Regions from separate parts of the Homo sapiens genome. Here all the other regions are linked to region 1. The links come from fine-mapping of genetic effects on gene expression. A gene starts in region 1. Each other region holds a variant in brackets. All regions are shown on one strand. Distances are between the middles of the regions.

What was found. PIP is the estimated chance that this variant, and not a neighbour inherited with it, causes the effect.
Region 2: its variant is fine-mapped to the expression of GNS in tibial nerve (GTEx, PIP 0.94).
Region 3: its variant is fine-mapped to the expression of GNS in whole blood (TOPMed, PIP above 0.99).
Region 4: its variant is fine-mapped to the expression of GNS in whole blood (TOPMed, PIP above 0.99).

Annotation. Positions count from the first base shown.
Region 1 is chr12:64,756,765-64,761,913 of GRCh38, forward strand. GNS (glucosamine (N-acetyl)-6-sulfatase) reads right to left here and starts at 2,642. Exons shown (of 14, transcript NM_002076.4): 1 at 2,321-2,642. The coding sequence starts at 2,512. It overlaps LOC124903113 (small nucleolar RNA U13), which reads right to left and starts at 4,209; the gene lies at 4,104-4,209. It also overlaps a transcript of TBC1D30 not described here. RefSeq lists an enhancer at 1,188-2,068.
Region 2 is chr12:64,729,173-64,734,321 of GRCh38, forward strand. All of the region lies in intron 9 of GNS (glucosamine (N-acetyl)-6-sulfatase), which reads right to left. Among named protein-coding and RNA genes, the nearest start is that of GNS, 28 kb to the right of the region's middle. The variant C/T (reference allele first, on the strand shown) is at 3,136.
Region 3 is chr12:64,695,173-64,700,321 of GRCh38, forward strand. It overlaps RASSF3 (Ras association domain family member 3), which reads left to right. Exons shown (of 5, transcript NM_178169.4): 5 at 1-2,392. Among named protein-coding and RNA genes, the nearest start is that of GNS, 62 kb to the right of the region's middle. The variant T/G (reference allele first, on the strand shown) is at 2,362.
Region 4 is chr12:64,712,889-64,718,037 of GRCh38, forward strand. It overlaps GNS (glucosamine (N-acetyl)-6-sulfatase), which reads right to left. Exons shown (of 14, transcript NM_002076.4): 14 at 561-3,931. The coding sequence ends at 3,853. Among named protein-coding and RNA genes, the nearest start is that of GNS, 44 kb to the right of the region's middle. The variant G/A (reference allele first, on the strand shown) is at 2,397.

The DNA.
Region 1 (5,149 bases):
AGAAGAGAAGCCAGAATTCTTGAGTTTGGAACATTAAGTTTGACTTATGCCCTCCACTCAATTTTGGTACCTCTCTCCAGTAGAAACACTTATTAAAAAAAAGAATCTGGGCCGAGACAGTGGCTCATGCCTGTAATCCCAGCACTTTGGGAGGCTGAGGTCCAGGAGTTCAAGAGTTCAGGAGTTCAAGAGTTACTTGAGTCCAGGAGTTCAAGACCGACTTGGGCAACATGGAGAAATCCTGTCTTTACAAAATATTTAAAAATTAGCTGGACGTAGTGACATGTGCCTGTAGTTCCAGCTACTAGGGAGACTGAGGCAGGAGGACTGCTTGAGACTAGGAGTTCAAGGCTGCAATGAGCCTTGATTGTACCACTGCACTCCAGCCTGGATGACAGAGCAAGACCCTGACTCAAAAAATCTGCTACTGGCTTAACGAAGCAAATTGGATTAACATACTAAAGAGACCTCAAATACACACAGACTACAGCTGTGGTTTATAAGAATTGAAGAAACAACTCTGAATACCTTATATTTAAGTAATCAATTTTGTTTTCAACACCTAAAAAAGCCTGACCTTTTAACTGAGTACTTAAGTCACTGCTAGAGAAGGCTTGCTTTTTCTGGACAAAACACTCTTCAAGGACACATTTTCTTTTTTTTAATAAAAAAGGAATTTTGTGAGCAGACAAGTAAGTGCAGTAGTTGGAAGAGTAGTGAACCTAAAGTGTAGGAGGAAAATTAAATTAAGACCAATGTCAACATGGCTTGGTAGAAACTAACAGACAATGAAGCATATATGGCAGGAAGAAATGTGTAGTCAAAATGCAAGCCTCTTAAAACATCAGCTATAAAAGACTCTCAAGCTCTTGAGCATCAACCTAAGAAATATATTTTACAACTCGGGAAGAAAGAGAGATAGATAATGATTACCTTTATCAAGTGTAACACACACACTCACACACATGGACCTTTTCTATTCTATTCTATTCCAGAGGAAATAAAAAATGTTGGTAGTTACTCACTAAACTGATTTCATAACTCACTCAAGGGTTGGGACCAGAGGTTTGAAGGACACTGAGCTAGGGTGTGTAACTACACAAGAAAAGTTAGGAACGTCTTGCCTGGAGTATTTCATAGTCTCAGCATTCAGCTGAAAGCAAAAAGAGAACTGAAACGAAGAAAGCAATAAAGCATTTGGTTTTAAAGCGAAGAGAGGAATGCTGAACCCAGGGTCAGAGGACTCTGCCTCAACTACTCATGTCTTGGGCAAGTTGCTTTCTGGGCCTCCATGGGGAAGGGGTTGGAGTGGATGTTTCCAAAGGTCACACATTCCATAATTCTGCAATACACAAGCAAAATTTACTCTGGAAAAAAAATGAAGTCTTGTGACAACACCCATTAGATAGAAAATGAAACACTGACAGTCTCTAATGCAACAGTCAGGTGTTCAATCACACTAATTGAATTTTCTTGATTCTTGTGAGGCAACACACACCCTCAATAGTTCGACGGTCGGCCTACCAGATTAGTTCACTTCAGGCCTTTTTTTTTTTTTTTTTTTTTTTTTTTTTTTGGAGACGGAGTCTCGCTCTGTCGCCAGGCTGGAATGCAGTGGCGCGATCTCGGCTCACTGCAACTGCTGCCTCCCGGGTTCAAGCGATTCTCCTTCCTCAGCCTCCCAAGTAGCTGGGACTACAGCTGCGCGCCACCACGCCCAGCTAGAATTATTGTATTTCTAGTAGAGACGGGGTTTCACCATGTTGGCCAGGATGGTCTCGATCTCTTGACCTTCTGATCCGCCCGCCTCGGCCTCCCAAAGTGCTGGGATTACATGAGTGACACACCGCGCCCGGCCCAGGCTTATTTTTATTGACATCAGATACAGACATTGTATACAGGCACAAACGTGGAGGTGGTCTAGGTCCCTCATAAAGGGGACTGGACTTGTCTGTGATCCTCTAATCCAAAAGAAAAACAATCAGGCCTTGAGTGCTCTTAGACAGCACCTGATCCTCATTGGTTCAACCCATCCTCCACTGGTCTCCACATGTTTATCTTGAGATATTAACGTAAACTCCACAGCAGTACGGTCCAGACTAGAAGCTCTGTGTGCTGTACGCATGTGCCTCAATCCAGAAAGGAAAAGAGTATTGCAGTCCCTTACACCGGCATAAAGGGCCTCAGGTGGGAAAACCAAACCTACCCAAGGATAAGACAGCCAGTTCGGGGAGGAGGGTGGTGGGGACCGGGAAAGAGAGCAACAAACCGGGTAGTCAGCCCAAGAGATAGAGGGGCGGGGCAGAAACAGAAGAGTTACCATGCCGCCGAGCACTTCGTCCTGGTCGTCCGTGAGGAGCAGCACCACGTTGGGCCTCCGGGTTCCCGCAGCCACCCCGAAGACCCCCAGGCAGCCGCCCAGCACCAGCAGTAGCAGCGCTGGGCTGCAGGAGGGCAGGTGGCGGGGGCTGCCCCGCCGGAGCCGACCTGGGGCTAGAGGCAGGAGCCGCATAGCGGACAGGCTCCGGGGTGACCCCGGGACGGGACGGGACGGAGGGACGCACAGGTAGCTGAAGGGCGAGAGGCCGACCAGCCGAAGGAATAAAAAGCCGTGCCTTGAAGGCCGGTGGCTGGAGTCAGACGTTTTCTCCCTAGGCGCGATCACGTGAGCCAGGGACAGGGGGCGGAGCACGCTGCGCGGTCACGTGACGGCCGGCGTGGGCGGGGCTGCGGACTGGCGCAGCCTGGAGGGAGGCATCAGGCAGTGGCGGAAAAGGGGCGGAGAACCGGAGAAAAGGGCGGAGAACCGGAGAAAAGGGCGGAGAACCGGAGAAAAGGGCGGAGAACCGGGAAAAGGGCGGAGAACCGGGAAAAGGTCAAGACCTGTACGTACCTCTCGCGCAGGCTCGGGTTGCGTTCTGGTAGGACGTACGTGTTTCTGAGCGCTTGGTGGAAAGATTTAAATGGGGGGAAGAGAAGATGAAAAGCAGGAAAGAGTTGGCAAATACTAACCAACCGATAAAGGAAGAGAAAGGAGGACTGTACATAACAGAAATTATCATCAGCTGGTGAGGAAAGTGGACTCTACCATATTTAATCCCCAAGTCGACGGGCACTTATTCAAGGCCCGGATGTTTAATCGTTTTTAATTTTCTCTACAACTTGTGAGATAAATCTTAACATTCTCATTTGGCTCAGACATTAAATTCGGAACTGGTTAGCTCTCTTAACTCCAAAGCCTAATTATGTTCTTCTTTCCTCAGCAGACATCGTAGTTTCAAACAATTTAGGGATGTCCTGACAGCTTTATCCTAATGGTTATCCTAATGGTCCTTGGTGACTTTTTAAACACCCTCTTGGAACATGTTGGAGGATGTGCAGATCGAACAAAAATCTTGAAACGTGGTCATCCAACTGCATTATTAAGTAATCTTTAGCGGGGAATAGCCCTTGAAACTAGCTCCAGATATTTCTGTGGTCGCTCTGGAATAATTAGACTTTGCCCCTCTCCTCTCACCGCCCACCGTGGGCGCGGTGGCTCACGCTTGTAATCCCAGCACTTTGGGAGGCGGGTGGATCACCTGAGGTCAGGAGTTTTAGACCAGCCTGGCCAACGTGGGGAAACCCCGTCTCTACTAAAATACAAAAATTAGCTGGGCGTGGTGGCAGGCGCCTGTAATCCCAGCTACTCGGGAGGCTGAGGCATGAGAATCGCTTGAACCCGGGAGGCGGAGCTTGCAGTGAGCCACTGCACTCTGGCCTCAGGGACAGAGCGAGACTCTTGTCTCAAAACAAACAAACAAACAAAAAATCACAGAGATATTCCTGGCAAGGTGAACTGTCAAGTCACATCCCCAGACCGATATAACAAGGTATACCTCCTTGCTGGTAAAAGTATTTTCTCTGAGTTGAACTGTTTGCCAAGAAGAGTCTCTTAAAACTCGTGAAAACTATTCCAGAACTTAAAGTATTAAAAAAAAAAACTCGTGAAAACACTATACTATAAGGTAAAAATAATGATGGAAACACGTTGAAACCTGATGTGTACAAGGATAGGGCTTATGCAAAAAAAAAAAAATTACCTTTATTACTTTGTTTTTTTCACACAGAGGGGTAATGCGCGGAGTCCTAACAAGGTTTGAGGTAGGGGTGGTAACTCACACAATAGCATGAAAACCCAATCATCAGGCTTATGAACCACAAAAGGATCTTAATACTTTTTTTTTTTAAGTAAGCCTACAGAAGGCAAAAGAAGCTTTAAAAAAACTGAAGTAGTTTTTCTGCAAGAAACAATTATGCCGGAAGTGTGGTCAGAGCAGTTCCTAGACAACCAGAATACTTGGTTACAGCCTTGGCCTAGGCCAATTTTTCAAGCTGGTTAGAATAACTAATCCTTCTGTATTCAGGTTTCAAGACTTCCAGGAAGACTTTCTTGCACAAAAAAATAACCTATTTCATCTGTATCGAAGCCCCAAATTGTAAAATTGTTTCTTTTCTATTTTTTTCAAGGTTAGATTATAAACTATTTGAGGCCAGAAATTGTGTAATTAGTTGCCCACTTTGTTCAGGATGCTGCTGTCAGAGGCGATTGAACCAGAGCAACTCCATCTTGAAAAGGGGCTGAGTAAAATAAGCCTGAGGCCTGCTATGCTGCATTCCCAGATGGTTATGCATTCTAAGTCACAGGATGAGATAGGAGGTCATAAAGATACAAGATACAAGATGCATGTCATAAAGACCTTACTGATGAAACAGGTAGCAGTAAAGAAGCCGACTAAAACCCACCAAAACCAAGATGGTGATGAAAGTGACCTCTGGTCGTCCTCACTGCTAAATTCCCACCCAGCGCCATGACAGTTTACAAACGCCATGGGAATGTCAGGAAGGTACCCTCTCTGGTCTAAAAAGGGGAGGCATGAATAATCCATCCCTTGTTTAGCATATCATCAAGAAATAACCATAAAAATGGGCAACGAGTAGCCCTCGGGCTGCTCTGCCTATGGAGTAGCCATTCTTTTATTCCTCTACTTTCTTAATAAACTTTCTTTCACTTTACTCTATGGTCTTGTCCTGAATTCTTCCTTGCTCGAGATCCAAGAACCCTTTCTTGATGTCTGGATCAGGACCCCTTTCCGGTAACACTGCTACA
Region 2 (5,149 bases), 28 kb before region 1:
TTATACAGCCCATACTTTGGTCTGTTTCATAGATCCAAATATAACTATAATAACTTCAAACAAAATATAAAGGCTTATAAGGCTTGTATAATAGTATATCCCCCTGGCAAGTTACATATTTATTCTACCCATTCTGTTATTGATCAAAATGTTTTTTGAAAACTCCTTTGGGACTGCTTTGAGTTTGTTGCGAATCATGAGAAAAATGTTGGTCTAATTATTTTATACAAAGTGTCTTACAACTTGATTATTCAGATTAACTAAGTTTGATTTCAAATGAACTCCAGACATTTTGGAAGGCCTCAAAAAAGGAATGCTTCCCATCAGTGAGAATTATTAGCTCTTTTTATAGCTTCTCAAAGGGACAACACTGCCAAAATATGTTTGCAACAGGCTGTGAAGGCTGCAGAAAATTTATTCCAAAAATGTAGCAATAAAAGTTTTTTTAAGAGCAAAAGACTTAGATGTTTTTAAACATTCTAGAAACTAAAGGCATTGTCCTGTATTTATACTTTGACTTATTTCCTTGGTTATTAGACTATTTTCCTTCTGTAAGACAATGCCTCTACAGGGCCTAATCCAGAGTAGCCTAATGGAAATATAAAGGGGACCCCATATGTAATTAAAAATTGTCCAATAACCACATTAATAAAAACAGGTAAAACTGTATATATTTTAACCTCCTATAAAAATATCTGAATATTAATATTTCAACATGTAAACAATATTTTTTAAAAAATCAATGAGATTTAACTTTTTGTGAACCAAGCCTTTGAAATCTGGTATTTCACAATAATAATACATCTCCATTTGGACTATCCACATTTCAAGTGCTCGACAGCCACAAGTGGATAATGCAGGCCTAGAGAGAATGTAAGCATAGAAGTCACTTGGTCACAGGCTAGAAAAATCTTCAAGCACTGAAACAATCCATTGAGCGAAACAAAGAGGAAGTGAGAAAAACTGGGAACTAAAGTTTACTGTGCCAGGCATTTGACATTTATTCTCATTTATTCCTCATCACAGTCCTTGGACACAGTGTTTATAGGTGAAGAAATGAAACACAAATCACTGAAGCAAAGTTATCAGCTTATAACTGGAAAAGCCATTACTTACTGACAGGAAGTAACAGTCTTCAAAACTGTTGAGAACATTTAGATCATCTTAGGAGAGGCCAAACAGGGAGATAAAACAAAACAAAAACACCCCAGCCCTGCCACTTTTAATTTAAAAACAAAACCAAAAGTACAGATATGAAAGGCAAAAAAAAAAAAAAAAAAAAAAAGCTTCAGAATATTATCAGGGGCCAGGTTTCCTGATGGCCAGGACAGCTCTTAGAGGGCAGAATGATAAATATCCTGGCCCTGAATCAATTAGTCTAACTCTGCAGCTGTCAGGTATTACTGCCCAAAGGCAGGCACTTCAGGAGAAAGGCAATCCATATGTTACTCAGTGGGGGAAAAACCTCACACACAAAAAACGATGTCTCCAGGGATGATACAAGACCCACTGTTACAGATAATTTTCCTGGTTCGAAGACCCCCAGGCAAACTGAGCAGCTTGGAAAACAGTCATCAAGTGTGAATGTCAATATGGAAGAGGTCACAGCAGGAAAGGAGGGTCAGAGAGAGATACCATCTCCAGAATGAGATCAAGACAACAAGCCATCTACAGACCCTGAAGTGTGACTAACAGATCTTCAGTGATATCTGTAAAATGAATGAGGTGAAGCCAGTTCCTCAGATACTACTATGATGTCCAAGGCAGTTTTAAAAGAAAAGAGGAAACATAAAAAAACCCAGAGATATAAAATGGTGACTGTCATCTCACCAAAAATTGCAAGAGCCACCACCTGTATAATGGGAGGCTTGTTCCTTTTTTGGTGAGGTGGGGGGAAGCTCTTTTTTGTTTTGTTGTTTTTTGAGACAGGGTCTCATTTTGTCACCCGAGCTGGAGTGCAGTGGCACAATCACAGCTCACTGTGGCCTTGACCTCCCAGACTCAACTGATCCTCCTGCCTCAGCATCCAGAGCAACTGGGACTACAGGTACACACCATGATGCCCAGCTAAATTTTGTATTTTTTTATTTTTCGTAGCAATGCCATGTTGCCTGGGCTGGTCTCAAACTTCTGAATTCAAGTGATCCGCCTGCCCTGGCCTCCCAAAGTGCTGGGATTACAGGCGTGAGCCACTGCACCCAGCCGAGGCTCTTTCTAATGGCATTTTGCTCTCTGGAGATAAAGGGGTAAGTTCCAGTATAAATCCAAAGTCACTAAGATTCAGCACAAGTACCGTAAGCACAAGTCATTCCAGGACTCCTTCTCCCTAGAAATCTATAATGATCACACTCCCCTAAATATAATGGATAAAATGTCTCCTCTTCTAGAATTTTATTTGAATAAGCGGACAGTCTCAAAATTAGCATACTATATCAGGAGATGGGAGACTTCTAGCAAATACCAAGTATGAATGAAGAGTTAAAAAGAATTATACCTACCTCTGGTTTTTATATAACCAAGAATTTGGATGGATTCACCCATCAATGTGATGACTTTGAGAAACACTAGTTTCACAGTATTGCTTTTGTCTAGTATAAACTTAAAAATTCATTTAAGGGCTGGGCACAGTGGCTCTCGCTGGTAATCCCAGCACTTTGGGAGGCCAAGGCAGGAGGATCACTTGAGCTCAGGAGGCCAAGGCTGCAGTGAGCCATGTTTGAGCCACCACATTCCAACCTGGTGAGAGAGCACCTATCTCAAACAAACAAAAAAATCATTTACGGATTGGAACAGAAAAAGCTTTGACAAGACCAAAAATATATCTATTTTTTGAGACAGATTTTTTGCTCTGTTGCCCAGGCTGGAGTGCAATGGTGCGATCTCGGCTCACTGCAATCTCCACCTCCTGGGTTCAAGCAATACTCTTGCTTCAGCCTCCCAAGTAGTTGGGATTACAGGCACCTGCCACCACACCTGGCTAATTTTTTTTTTTTGTTGTTTTTTTTTTTTTTTTGAGACGGAGTCTCACTCTGTCACCCAGGCTGGAGTACAGTAGCACGATCTCAGCTCACTGCAAGCTCTGCCTCCCGGTTTGATGCCATTCTCCTGCCTCAGCCTCCCAAGTAGCTGGGACTA[C/T]AGGCGCCTGCCACCACGCCCAGCTACTTTTTTTGTATTTTCAGTAGAGACGGGGTTTCACCGTTTTAGCCAGGATGGCCTCGATCTCCTGACCTCGTGATCCGCCTGACTCAGCCTCCCAAAGTGCTGGGATTACAGGTGTGAACCACCGCGCCCAGCCTCTTTTTTTTTGAGATGGAGTCTCACTCTGTTGCCCAGGCTGGAGTGCAGTGGTGTGATCTTGGCTCACTGCAAGCTCCGCCTCCTGGGTTCACACCATTCTCCTGCCTCAGTCTCCCGAGTAACTGGGACTATAGGCGCCCGCCACCACACCTGGCTAATTTTTTGTATTTTTTAGTAGAGACGGGGTTTCACTGTGTTAGCCAGGATGGTCTCGATCTCCTGACCTCCTGATCCGCCTGCCTCGGCCTCCCAAAGTGCTGGCATTACAGGCGTGAGCCACCGCGCCTGGCCTAATTTTTGTATTTTTAGTAGAGACAAGGTTTCACCATGTTGGCCAGGCTGGTTTCAAATTCTTGACCTCAGGTGATCCACACCTGCCTTGGCCTCCCAAAGTGCTAGGATTACAGGCGTGAGCCACCATGCCCAGACAAAAAAATAAATTATTTGATAAATCACTTTCTCAGGTTGAGAATGTTCTTAGGATTTAAGTATATAAATATCCTAATCAAATGAAAGTCCTTAGAAAACCCTGGGGTAGACTGGCTGTGGTGGCTCATGCCTGTAATGAGGGGAGGAGGGCTGATTGCTTGAGCCCAGGTGTTCCAGACCAGCCTGGGCAACATAATGAAACCCCGTCTCTACAAAAACAAACAAACAAACAAAAAACAAAAAACAAAAATTAGCTGGGCATGGTGGTGTGCACCTATAGTCCCAGCTACTCAGGAGGCTGAGGTAGGAGAATCACCTGAGCCTGGGAGGTGGAGGATGCAGTGAGCCAAGATTGTGCCACCACACTCCAGCCTAAGTTACAGAGCAAGACCCTGTCTCAAAAAAAAAAAAAAAAAAAAAAAAAAAAAAATTCCTGGGGCTTAAATCAAAGGGTATCATGCATTGAACCTGCTTATTCTTGCTCTGAAAGAATGACACTTGCATAATTACTGAAAAGAACAAGATGGCAACGGGCTCTCAGAACACATCAGGTTTCCAGACACCCAAACCCTGATGTTGAATTTCTGTAGAGTTATCAAAGAAAAGGCTCCAAACATACCAGAAAGCACCCCAAATCCATTTAGTGAAAAGCACTGTAACTACATGAGAAAGTGCAGAATCCCATATCTTGGTTGCTTCAGCTGGACTTGCCCCTCAGTTCCAGCTTTCCTGACAAGGAAGAAGCTGGGGCATCACCTGGTTCCACCTGATAATGGAGGCTTAACATCCTCTTACTTTTACAAAAGTAGGGGAACCAAGGCTGATTTTGTCCAAAGCCAACAGGTCGTCTTCCTGACTCCCAGTTCAGTTCTATTTCCCTGGGACGGTGCTGTGTCATTCTAGTTTTCCTACTAACCTTTTCCTTTTTAGAATTCCTTTTGCAGAACTTCTACCACCAAATCTAAAGCTAAACTAGTCAGAGGAGAAAACGTCAATAGTCAATCTTTGACATCTACACATATGACCTTGTCCCATTTCTCCCACACAGCTTAAGTCCACCAGTCAGTTAAATGTGCACTGATCTGGCTGTCAAGGCTGCTGACAGCTCAGCTCATTATGCCCAACTCACAAGCCTGTGCCACTCACACAGAACAGCTGGCACTGAGACAACTATGCTGCCAACACATGATGCATCACCCATCGTCTCCGACATTCTTTGTGCCAGGGGAAAGCTGGGGCATTTCATGCTTCTCAAATTACACCTGTCAATGCAGCAATGTAAATTCTGAGAATGCACAGACTTAATTTTCAGTCCCTGATCTGCCACTTACTTTGCGACCTTGGCAAAATCCATTCAACCAATGTGGATGTTCCCCAGTGTATGTTAGGGGCTGGATATTTTAAGTTTAGATAGTTCCTCTTT
Region 3 (5,149 bases), 62 kb before region 1:
CGAGGGTGCTTGGAAGCATGAACTCTGGGGGTGTTTTTTTTTTTGGTTATTTTAATTATGTGATGATGCTGTTAAGCTTACAGATATGCAGTTGATTTTTTAAAAAGCTTAACTAGGAATCTTTCTGAATACTTGTCCTATTTTGAAACTACCTGTCTGGTTTTTTGTTTGGTTTTGTTTTCTTTTTTTAATGTCAGAGGAATCTATCCATGTGAATCGAAAGGCACAGGAATCTAGGAACTCTGAGGAATTTATTGTGAAGGATTTTGTTAGGGGGTTGACAGAGAAAGCAAAGTGTAAGTTTGGAAGAAGGCATGTGCGGTGGTGGCGAGTGCTGCGGGCTATGGAAGGTGACTTGGCTTTTCAGTTAGGGGTAGTGGAGAAAGGGGTAGTTGCTTGTAAACGAGTTAAAAGCATTCAGTGTGGAGGTGTTAAACCCATTTTAGGATCGCTTGGTTTCCTGGTGGGTAGAATATGGGAACAGAGCCAGAGGCAGGAGCTAAACCAAAAGGAGGGACCCATGAACTCTGCAGCTGACCAATCAGAGAATCAGGCAGGTGTAGCCTACTGACCTGGGCAGAGGTGGGCCTCACGCAGCTGGATCCGACCCTTTAATTCTGCCCTTTTGGAGTGGAAGGTCTGATTGGTGTAGCTGCTCTGCATAGGCAGGACAGTGACAGTTCACTAACTCTTGTTAAGTTACATAGTGTATAGCTTTCCCCCCACAGGTGGTTTTCAAAGTTGAGACGGAATTTGGGTAGGGGCAGCTGTTTTTCCCTTGATTGTTAGCTAGGATATTTGTCAAGTAAACTTTGGTGACAATCACTCTCTTCCCTTTTATTCCTCCTTTCCTTTTCCTTTCTTCCCTTTTTTCTTTCCTTCCCTGCTGTCTCCCACCCTACCTTGTTCTTTTCCTCCCTCCCTCCCTCCCTCCCTCCCTCCCTCCCTCCTTCCCTCCCTCTCTCTCCCTCTCCCTTTCTTTTCTACATTGAAATCTGTTCTTACATAATAGAGAACAGGGCTATTGAATAAAGACCCAATCCTACCAGATCTTTAGTTCTAAAGGGCAACTTGACTGTGAGTAGGAGGGCCCCCAAGAAAGGGAGGAAAGTCCACACCCAGCTAACCACACAACAGGGCTTCATTATGGAAATATTTTAACAAAAGTACATGTTATTACCAACCAAAGAGATGCATGTGCAATAGAAGCCTTCCTTAAAAACAGGCTAAATAACCTCATTTTATGCAGCAGTTTAATCTGAGAACAGAGGGAAAGGTGTGCAGTGGTTCCAGAGGGGCCTTATATTCTATTTTTAGTCTAGATATTTTTTGTTTATAAATTCCCAAGGAATTGTTAACACTTTGGTGACACCTAATGGATTCTTTTTGAAATTCCAAGGTGCTTCAGTTCTTTGCCCAAGTGAACTGTGCCTTTTATTGCATTTCTGTTCGTCTCTTGGTGGCTCTTCTGACTTTTTGGAGAATACCCATCTTGTTGGAGGCAGACTTAAGTTGTTATGCTGTGCCACACAATTTACTGAGACAATCATATCTTCCTAAGCATTTAAGGAAAGTTGAAAAAAATAGAATTAGCTATAAAATATGTATGGCACATCTTGTTTAATTTTGCATGTAACTTCTCTTTTGTACATTGATGAGGTTTTAGTGACATTGTCATCCAACACTTTACCTTTATTGTTCAGGGAATGCCTTCGTGATTTTTTGTACTGGTTTTATTATTCAGACTATGGCCTGGATTTGAGTATATTGTTATTACCACCTGGTTTTTTAATTATTCATCCCAGTAAACTTATATTTTGTGAAGCATTTGTTTCTCAGATTAAGACACTGTTAGAACCTAAAGTAGTAGCTGATGGGTATCTGTGAATTTTTTTTTTTTTTTTTTTTTTACTTGAAGTAGATTGTCTGAATAGGCATCCTCATCTATATTTACCCAAAACCTCGCTTACTGTCATGTGCACTACAAATTGCAATTTGGAAACCTACTGTATTGAAATTCTGTCAGTTTATGGTTCTTGAAGACTGATGTCCTTTCCCAAACACTGGTTACTGCAGCAGCATTTTTAATGTGTAAGTGAAGAAAAAAGGCCACTAAGGCCAAAGATTTTTTAAGAATCATTGTACAAATCATTATGTTAAACTATCTAAGCTTTGCTGTAATACTGTTTTCTCTTCAATATGTGATGGTACAGGAAGGATGTTAAATGAAGGGGTGGTATTGCAGGAGAGCATTTTAAATGGCAGAAGTAAAAAGTTATAATATTTATAATTTTGATGGGTTTAAGTTTATTTTTGTAGGGAAGATTTTTCTCCCCTAAAATAGTTTCTAGAATGGCAAAA[T/G]TGTTTCCATTATTAAAAATTGAAGTTATTAGTTGTTTATGTGTGTTTATTTATGATAATATGCTAGATTTAAAAAGGTCACAGGAGTGCGCTGAGCTGCTTTTGCACATATACACAGGGACACATGCTGGAATGCAACAACTTTACTAGGTTCGCGTGGGTCATATTTGTTCTCCCAGATATCATTTTCTCTTTGCCTTATCCTCTGAGGAAAAATAACCCTAAGCTCACACAGCATATTCCAATGTATTTAAAACAATTGTTTTAATTTTTGAAATATACACATTTAAAAGTATATAAAGCATGCAAAAGAGGAGGGAGGCCGAGAGTGAAAAAATAAAAATAAAAAAGCATGCGAACAGTTTAAAGGATTATTATATAAAATGGACACCCCCTGACCATTACTAAAATAGAACCTTGTCAGTTCTTTAGAAATCTCTCCCTCCACCCCTGTTCTTGCCCTGAGGTCTCCTACCCCTGAAACATACCACTTCAACATAAAGTGAGTATTTGTATTTTTTTGGTCACCATGACTGCCTTACACAGATGGGATGGATAGTGTCTGGGGAACCACAGGGACGATGGAGTGCCACCCTCTGCGCACCTGCACCTCGGCTTTGTGCCATGGTTTCAGCTTCCATGCCTGCTGTTGGGAGTGTTTTTACTACTACACTGCCCCCTGGAGGGGCTGATGAAAGGAGCAAGGCTGGCACCAGGTGGTAGAGGCCTTTCACGTACCATAGCTGCTCCCTAAATAAAAATACTGTGATAGAAAATTATGGCTCTGTATAATTTTGCTTTTCTACTGAAATATTCAGAGGAATCAGGTTTGGGGGTTCTACTTGGGTTACTACCCAAGGTGCGTGGAGAATGTTTGGGAATTTTTATATTTTTATCCTTTATTTTTTTTGGAGATGGAGTCTCAATGTGCCACCCAGGCTAGAGTGCAGTGGCATGATCTTGGCTCACTGTAACCTCCACCTCCCAGGTTCAAGCGATTCTCCTGCCTCAGCCTCCCTAGTAGCTGGGATTACAGGTGCCTGCCACCATACCCGACTAATTTTTTTTTTTGTATTTTTAGTAGCGACGGGGTTTCTCCACGTTGGCTAGGCTGGTCTCAAACTCCTGACCTCAAGTGACCAACACACCTCAGCCTCCCAAAGTGCTGGGATTACAGGTAGGACTTTTTTTTTTAAGTCAATTTTTATTACTAAAAAAAAACCTTTTTTTTTGAGATAGAGTTTCACTCTGTCTCCCAGGCTGGAGTGCAGTGGCACGATCTGGGCTCACTGCAACCTCTACCTCCTAGGTTCAAGCAATTGTCCTGCCTCAGCCTCTGGAGTAGATGGGATTACAGGCGTGTGCCACCACACCTGGCTAATTTTTGTATTTTTAGTAAAGACGGGGTTTCACCCTGTTGGCCAAGGTGGTCTCAAACTCCTGACCTCAGGTAATCTGCCGGCCTTGGCCTCCCAGAGTGCTGGGATTACAGGTGTGAGCCACCGTGCCTGGCTCACATGAATATTTATTGAAACAACAGTTATCAGTTGGTGACAAATTCGGAGACACTGTCAGATAACGCTAATTAGGTATTTTGTTTTATTGAAAGAAGGGGGCTGGGCGCGGTGGCTCATGCCTGTAATCCCAGCATTTTGGGAGGCCGAGGTGGGCAGATCATGAGGTCAGGAGTTTGAGACCAGCCTGACCAAACATGGTGAAACCCCGTTTCTACTAAAAATACAAAAATTAGCTGGGCGTGGTGGCGCACACCTGTAATCCCAGCTACTCAGGAGGCTGAGGCAGGAGAATTGCTTGAGCCAGGGAGGCGGAGGTTGCAGTGAGCCGAGATCGCCCCATTGCACTTAGCCTGGGCGACAAAGTGAAACTCCGTCTCAAAAAAAAAAAAAAAGAAAAGGGGCCAGGCACAGTGGCTCATGCCTGTAATCCCAGCACTCTGGGAGGCCAAGGCGGGCTGATCTCTTGAGGCCAGGAGTTCAAGACCAGGTTGGCCAACATGGCAAAACCTCTTCTCTGCTAAAAATATAAAAATTAGCCAGGCGTGGTGGCACACGACTGCTGTCTCAGCTACTCAAGAGGCTGAGGCAGGAGAATTGCTTGAACCCGGGAGGCGGGGTTCAAGCCCCGTGATTGCGCCACTGTACTCCAGTGAGCCGTGAGTACTGCAGTGAGCCATGATTGCGCCACTGTACTCCAGCCTGGGCAACAGAGCAAGACTCTATCTCAAAAAAAAAAAAAAAAAAAAAAAGGGTGGTGGTGAAGGTCTACACTATAGTAGCCAATGCCAACAAAGTGCTTACCATGTGCTAGGCATTCTTCTGAAATGCTTAATATGTATCAACTCATTGACTCTCCTGTGACGTTATCACACTATTTCGTCATATCCCTTTTTTCACAAATGTGGAAATGGACATGTTGAGGTTTAGCAGCTTGCTCAAGGCCACTGTGTGAGTGAGTGGCAGAGCCGGACACTGCCCCGTTTCTCTACCATCTTTTCCTGTAAGTGCTCTCTAGTTTCTCAGTTAAATTGCCTATTGAGTAAAGGAGCAAAAGTCTGTTAAATTGCCGTAATGGACAGTTTGCCCAGAAGCGTAACTGTTTTGGTGCCATTGGGGTTTGTTGATATCAGTGTGTTCTCATCCATTTTGGTTCATTTATCATTTCATTCAGGTGATTATACTAAGTCACATAGAATGAAATGCTGACCTGTGCTTTCTTTTTATTTTTTCGGATGGGGTTTCACCTTGTCATCCAGGCTGGAATGTAGTGG
Region 4 (5,149 bases), 44 kb before region 1:
GTCTTCAGAATTGCTAAGATATGAGGCAACCTATAAGCTCTGGGGTTGGCAAATTATGACCTACTTGTTTTTGAAAATAAAATTGTATTGGAACACAGCCACACACTTATCCATTTTCTATGGCTACTTTTGTGTTATAACAGCAGAGGTAAATAGCTGTGACAGTGAACACATGGCCTGGCAGCCTAAAATACTGGCCGTCTATCCCTATAAGAAGTTTGTTGACCCCGTAAGAAGTCATTCCTCATCTAGAGCAATGGATCACATGGCAAAGCACCTTTGAAGGCGAGCCTAGTCTGTTTGAAAGCCAGCCAAGATAAGACTTTTTCTCCAAAGCTGTAAATACATACAGATTTATCAGGAAATATTTTCTACATGGTGCTTCATTCAGGGGTTATCAGTAGGGGCCATGTATGTAAGAGCTATACAGGTAGAGACTATAGGATCTGACTAGAAAGCCCATTTCCAGTACTAGGTGAGTGATTAAAACAAACTGCATCAGAAGAAAGCATCTTGTCAAAATTACTACTTGTGAACTAAAACAAAGGACACATTCCCACTAGAACAGAAATAAATTTTAATTCATTGAAAAGTGCAGCAGTGAACAGGGTCCTTTTGAAGGGCACTTTCTAAGTCAAATGACTGAGATGACACAGAGCAAGGGCAGAATAGGAACAGAGGATGCAAACACAGGAAGTTACAAAATTCAGTGGGAACTAAGTGGTGGTAAAACTCAAGAACCCAACTCTACCCATCTAATTCCATTGGTGGATCAGTTGAATTAACTTTTGCTTTCTTTAGGATGAATCCTGGGACAACTTTCCTTTAAAAAAGCACTAAACCTTAGTTTAGACACTTAATAAGTTTAAGAACACTTCTCACAGAATAAGGTAAAACTTCCATGGCTATCATTACTATTTTGTACAACAGCCCTAGTGTTGTCAATTAAAATGTGTTTGCAGGCCGGGCACGGTGGCTCACACCCGTAATCCCAGCACTTTGGGAGGCCGAGAAAGGTGGATCACCTGAGGTCAGGAGTTAATCAGCCTGGCCAACATGGTGAAACCCCGTCTCTACTAAAATTACAAAAATCAGCCAGGTGGGGTGGCAGGCGCCTGTAATCTCAGCTACTTGGGAGGCTGAGGCAGGAGAACTGCTGGAACCCAGGAGGTGGAAGTTGCAGTGAGCCGAGATCACGCCACTGCACTCCAGCCCGGGTGACAACCGCGAGACTTCATCTCAAAAAAAAAGTGTTTGCAACAGCACCATTTGTCAAATTCAAAGATGCTCAAAAGGTGTTCCCTACTTTGCATGAGAGGGAGAGCTTTGTAACAGGAAATTGTATAAGGCAAACTCTCTATTCATTCCTAAGGCCTCTGTTCATTCCTAATGTTTACATGGTTCTCTACTCTGAAGGGCACCAACATGGACCTCACCTTCTTAACATGGAAAATCAAAATCTAAATGAATACAATTAAAAGGAGGCAGCAAGCTTCTTGCAGTGGGTCCCTTAAACATTATGAAAACATCAGTGCATTGTGTAGTCTGTTACGCTATAAACTGAGGTCTCTTTATGAAAGATTATTTTAGCACAAATTCAGAATGAAGCCAGTCCAAGAAAAAAAGAATTGGAAGCTATTTGAAGGTTAGATAGGAAATATACCAAAAATAGAAGAGCGTAGAGAGGGCTGCACCACATCCTACCACGCAAGCACACCCACTGAACTGAGTAAGAGTGGCGTGGCTGAGGTGCCGTCAGCAGCTGACTATGTCACTCTTATGAGTTCTGCTCAGGAACAAGCATAAAACTGAATAATATGACATCACAGTCCAAGACCTGGTAAGAGTTGGTTTCTTTTTATTTGGAAATAACTATGGTCAACTTTCATTAATGTGGAAGTTGACTGATAATGTTAAGAGTCAAAGTGAAAAAGAAAGCCGATACCCATATTCAACAGTGCTTTCAGTTACAACATTTTTTGAATTTCCTTCTCTAAAACATTCACAGCAGAGGTGTCCATTTCACTTGCCTGTTTCACCTCTAGATACCACCACAGTTGCTGGGGTCATGTGAGGTAAAGGAATATATCCAATTGACTGTTAGCCCAACATGACTATCTGCAATTCTGATAGAAAAGCTACTTTCAGCCATGTCTTACAAAGTGCTTAAAGCTGGACAGAAGACTTTAAATAAAGCTAAAATCGCTTATTGCCTGAGTTGAACAAGTTACAAACCACAGCTCTTCCTCCTCCCCTGCTGTCTCACCACCAATTAGCCTTCTTGTGAGGACAACATTAGAAATGGAACTGGTTTTTGAGCCAAGAAACATAAAAATTTAGGTGTTCTTAGCCAAGCGTGGTGGCTCATGCCTGTAATCCCAGCACTCTGGGAGGCC[G/A]AGGTGGGTGGATCACAAGGTCAGGAGTTCAAGACCAGCCTGGCCAACATGGTGAAACTCTGTCTCTACTAAAAATACAAAAAATTAGCTGGGCGTGGTGGTGCGTGCCTATAATCCCAGCTACTCAGGAGGCGGAGGCAGGAGAATCGCTTGAACCCAGGAGGCGAAGGTTGCAGTGAGCTGAGATCATGCCATTGCACTCCAGCCTGGGTGACATAGTGAGACTCTGTCCCCACTTCTCAAAAATAAAAACATTTAGGTGTTCTCAACAGTGAAGAAACCTGAATAGATTTGATTTTGACAGGGGAATACTGATAATCATACAAGACTCCAAAACTCAGGAAGAACCCATCTAAAAGGGGAGAAGGTAGGGTAAAGTAGTTGATACTTTGCATCAACTGTAAGAAAATTTTCCACCTTAAAACAAATGAAGAGAATGACAGAAAAATGCAGATAGAGCCAATGACTTCATACATGGAACTTAAATTCAAGCTCCCTGCTGGACAGGCACTTCTTTCCTTTATCCCTGGTACAGCCCTTCCACTTGTCTGTTCAAGAGCCCTGTCTTCAGAAGGCCCTCGGAAGAGACAACCTTCACCAACTCTTGGCAGTTCTTCACTGCTGATGTTCCTAAGCCACTTCATTTTTCAGATCTCAGAGGGGAGTCTCAAGAGAAGGGACCTTGCCTTAATCCTTCCAGTGTTAACTGGCACTCCCTGTGGTTGGCAGCCACTGGAAAGTAGATGGCTATCACCTTCAAGAGCTACCTGGAATTGGCCTTTATCACAAGCTTACTGCTCTATTTCAGTGCAGCACCAGCCTAGAATTCACAAAAACATGAACAGAGCTTGGGTGACATGTTTTGAATTTGCAACCTTACCACACTGTGATGAACATCATAAAAAATGTATCTCTACTTATCAATCAACAATGGTACTTGTTCTTACTTGGATGATTCAGCTCTGATGGTTACTCTTCAAGCCATGTGATGTTAGTATTTTTGATAGTGAAGTGCTCAATCTGAAATGCTACACAGGTCCTTTGACTTTAGGTCAAGCTTACATATCAAAAGGTGTGTCTGTGTGTTTGTGTGTGTCCTAAAGTACTGCCATTTATCTGAATGGGTTTACAAATTCAGTCTTTAACCACAAGAGGAATAATCAAGAACTGTGGCCCCAGGATAAAAAGAATACAGTGAGAACAAAGACCTCAGGAGTGTCCTTGTCAGCTAAAGGAAGAGACCAGAGACAGCCACTCCTGACACATGGGCAGAGTTCACAGTTTAACACATTGCACGAGGAAGTCAGCTGACTGGGTTGCTTTTTCAAACAGGACTTAAAGCCAGCCCAGAAACTCTTCCAGGTGTGGTCTTGAAGACTAGCTACAGACACCTACTACAATCACTTCATCAGAAAGAGGCGTGCAGGGATCCATCTGCAGAGGCTGTGTGAGGTCGCTACAGAAGATGTTTGGAAAATCTTCGAGTCCTGACACTGCCGCGATTGCTGAACATGAGACGGGGGTCAAACCTGTATCTGGGGAGGAAAAACCAAATGTAACATTAGCTCTCACTAGCTTCTCACTCAGAATATTATTCAGTGGAAAGGATAGCAGGAAGGGGTGTAAAAGAAACAAATCACCAGAAGGGACTCTAGTGAGAAAGTCTATGGTACAAAACATGAGCCCTCGACAGTTCCGAACATTTCTATCACCAGTCAGCACACACAAAGTCACACAGTGCAAGTCAAGAGGAGAAAAACAAGTAGGTTAGTCTTGAAAGGTGTCAGAAGGCAGCAAGATTTGAGATTTTTTTCTTTTGAGGGAGTAGGGGTGGATCAACTGTTACATTATTACAGTGCTTGTGTTCAAGTCACCCTGATTTTATTTAACAATGGCTCCAAACCACAAGAGTAGTGGTGCTGCCAATTCAGAAATGCCAAAGAGAAGCCATAAAGTGCTTCCTTTAAGTGAAAAAGTGAACGCTCTTGACTTAATAAGGAAAGAAAAAAATCATACAGCAAGACTGCTAAGACCTACAAGAGCCTCACCATAAACATGAGTCATTTTTGGTGGGGGCGCTGGCAGGGGGACAGAGTCAGTCTGTCGCCCAGGCTGGAGTGCAGTGGCACAATTTCAGCTCACTGCAACCTCCACCTCTCCGGCTCAAGTGATTCTCCTGTCTTAAGCCTCCAGAGTAGCTGGGAACACTGGCGTGCGCCACCACACCTGGCTAATTTTTTTTTTTTTTTTTTTTTTTTGTAGAGACAAGAGTTTCACCATGTTGCCCAGGCTGGTCTAGAACTCCTGGGCTCATGTGATCTGCCCGCCTTGGTCTCCCGAAGTGCTGGGATTACAAATGTGAGCCACCGCGCCCAGCCAGGAATGAATCTTCTATCTGTGAAATCATGAAGAAGGAAAAACGAATTCTAGTTTTGCTGCCACACCTTAAACTGCAAAAGTTAGGGCCACAGTGCATGACAAAAGCTTAGTTAAGATGGAAAAGGCATAAAATTTGTGGGTAGAAGACATGAACAGAAACATCTTCCAACTGATGGCAACTGGGCCTGGCACTATCCTTGGGGCTTCACGCATCCACTGTGGGTTCTGGAATAGATCCTCTGTGGATAAGGGGGGACTACTGCATTTTAGAACTGCAATTGACCAAGATTTTTTGTAAAGGGCCAGATAATAAATATTTTAGGGTATGGGAGCCATACAGTCTCTGTCCCAACCATTCTCCTTTGCTGCTGAAG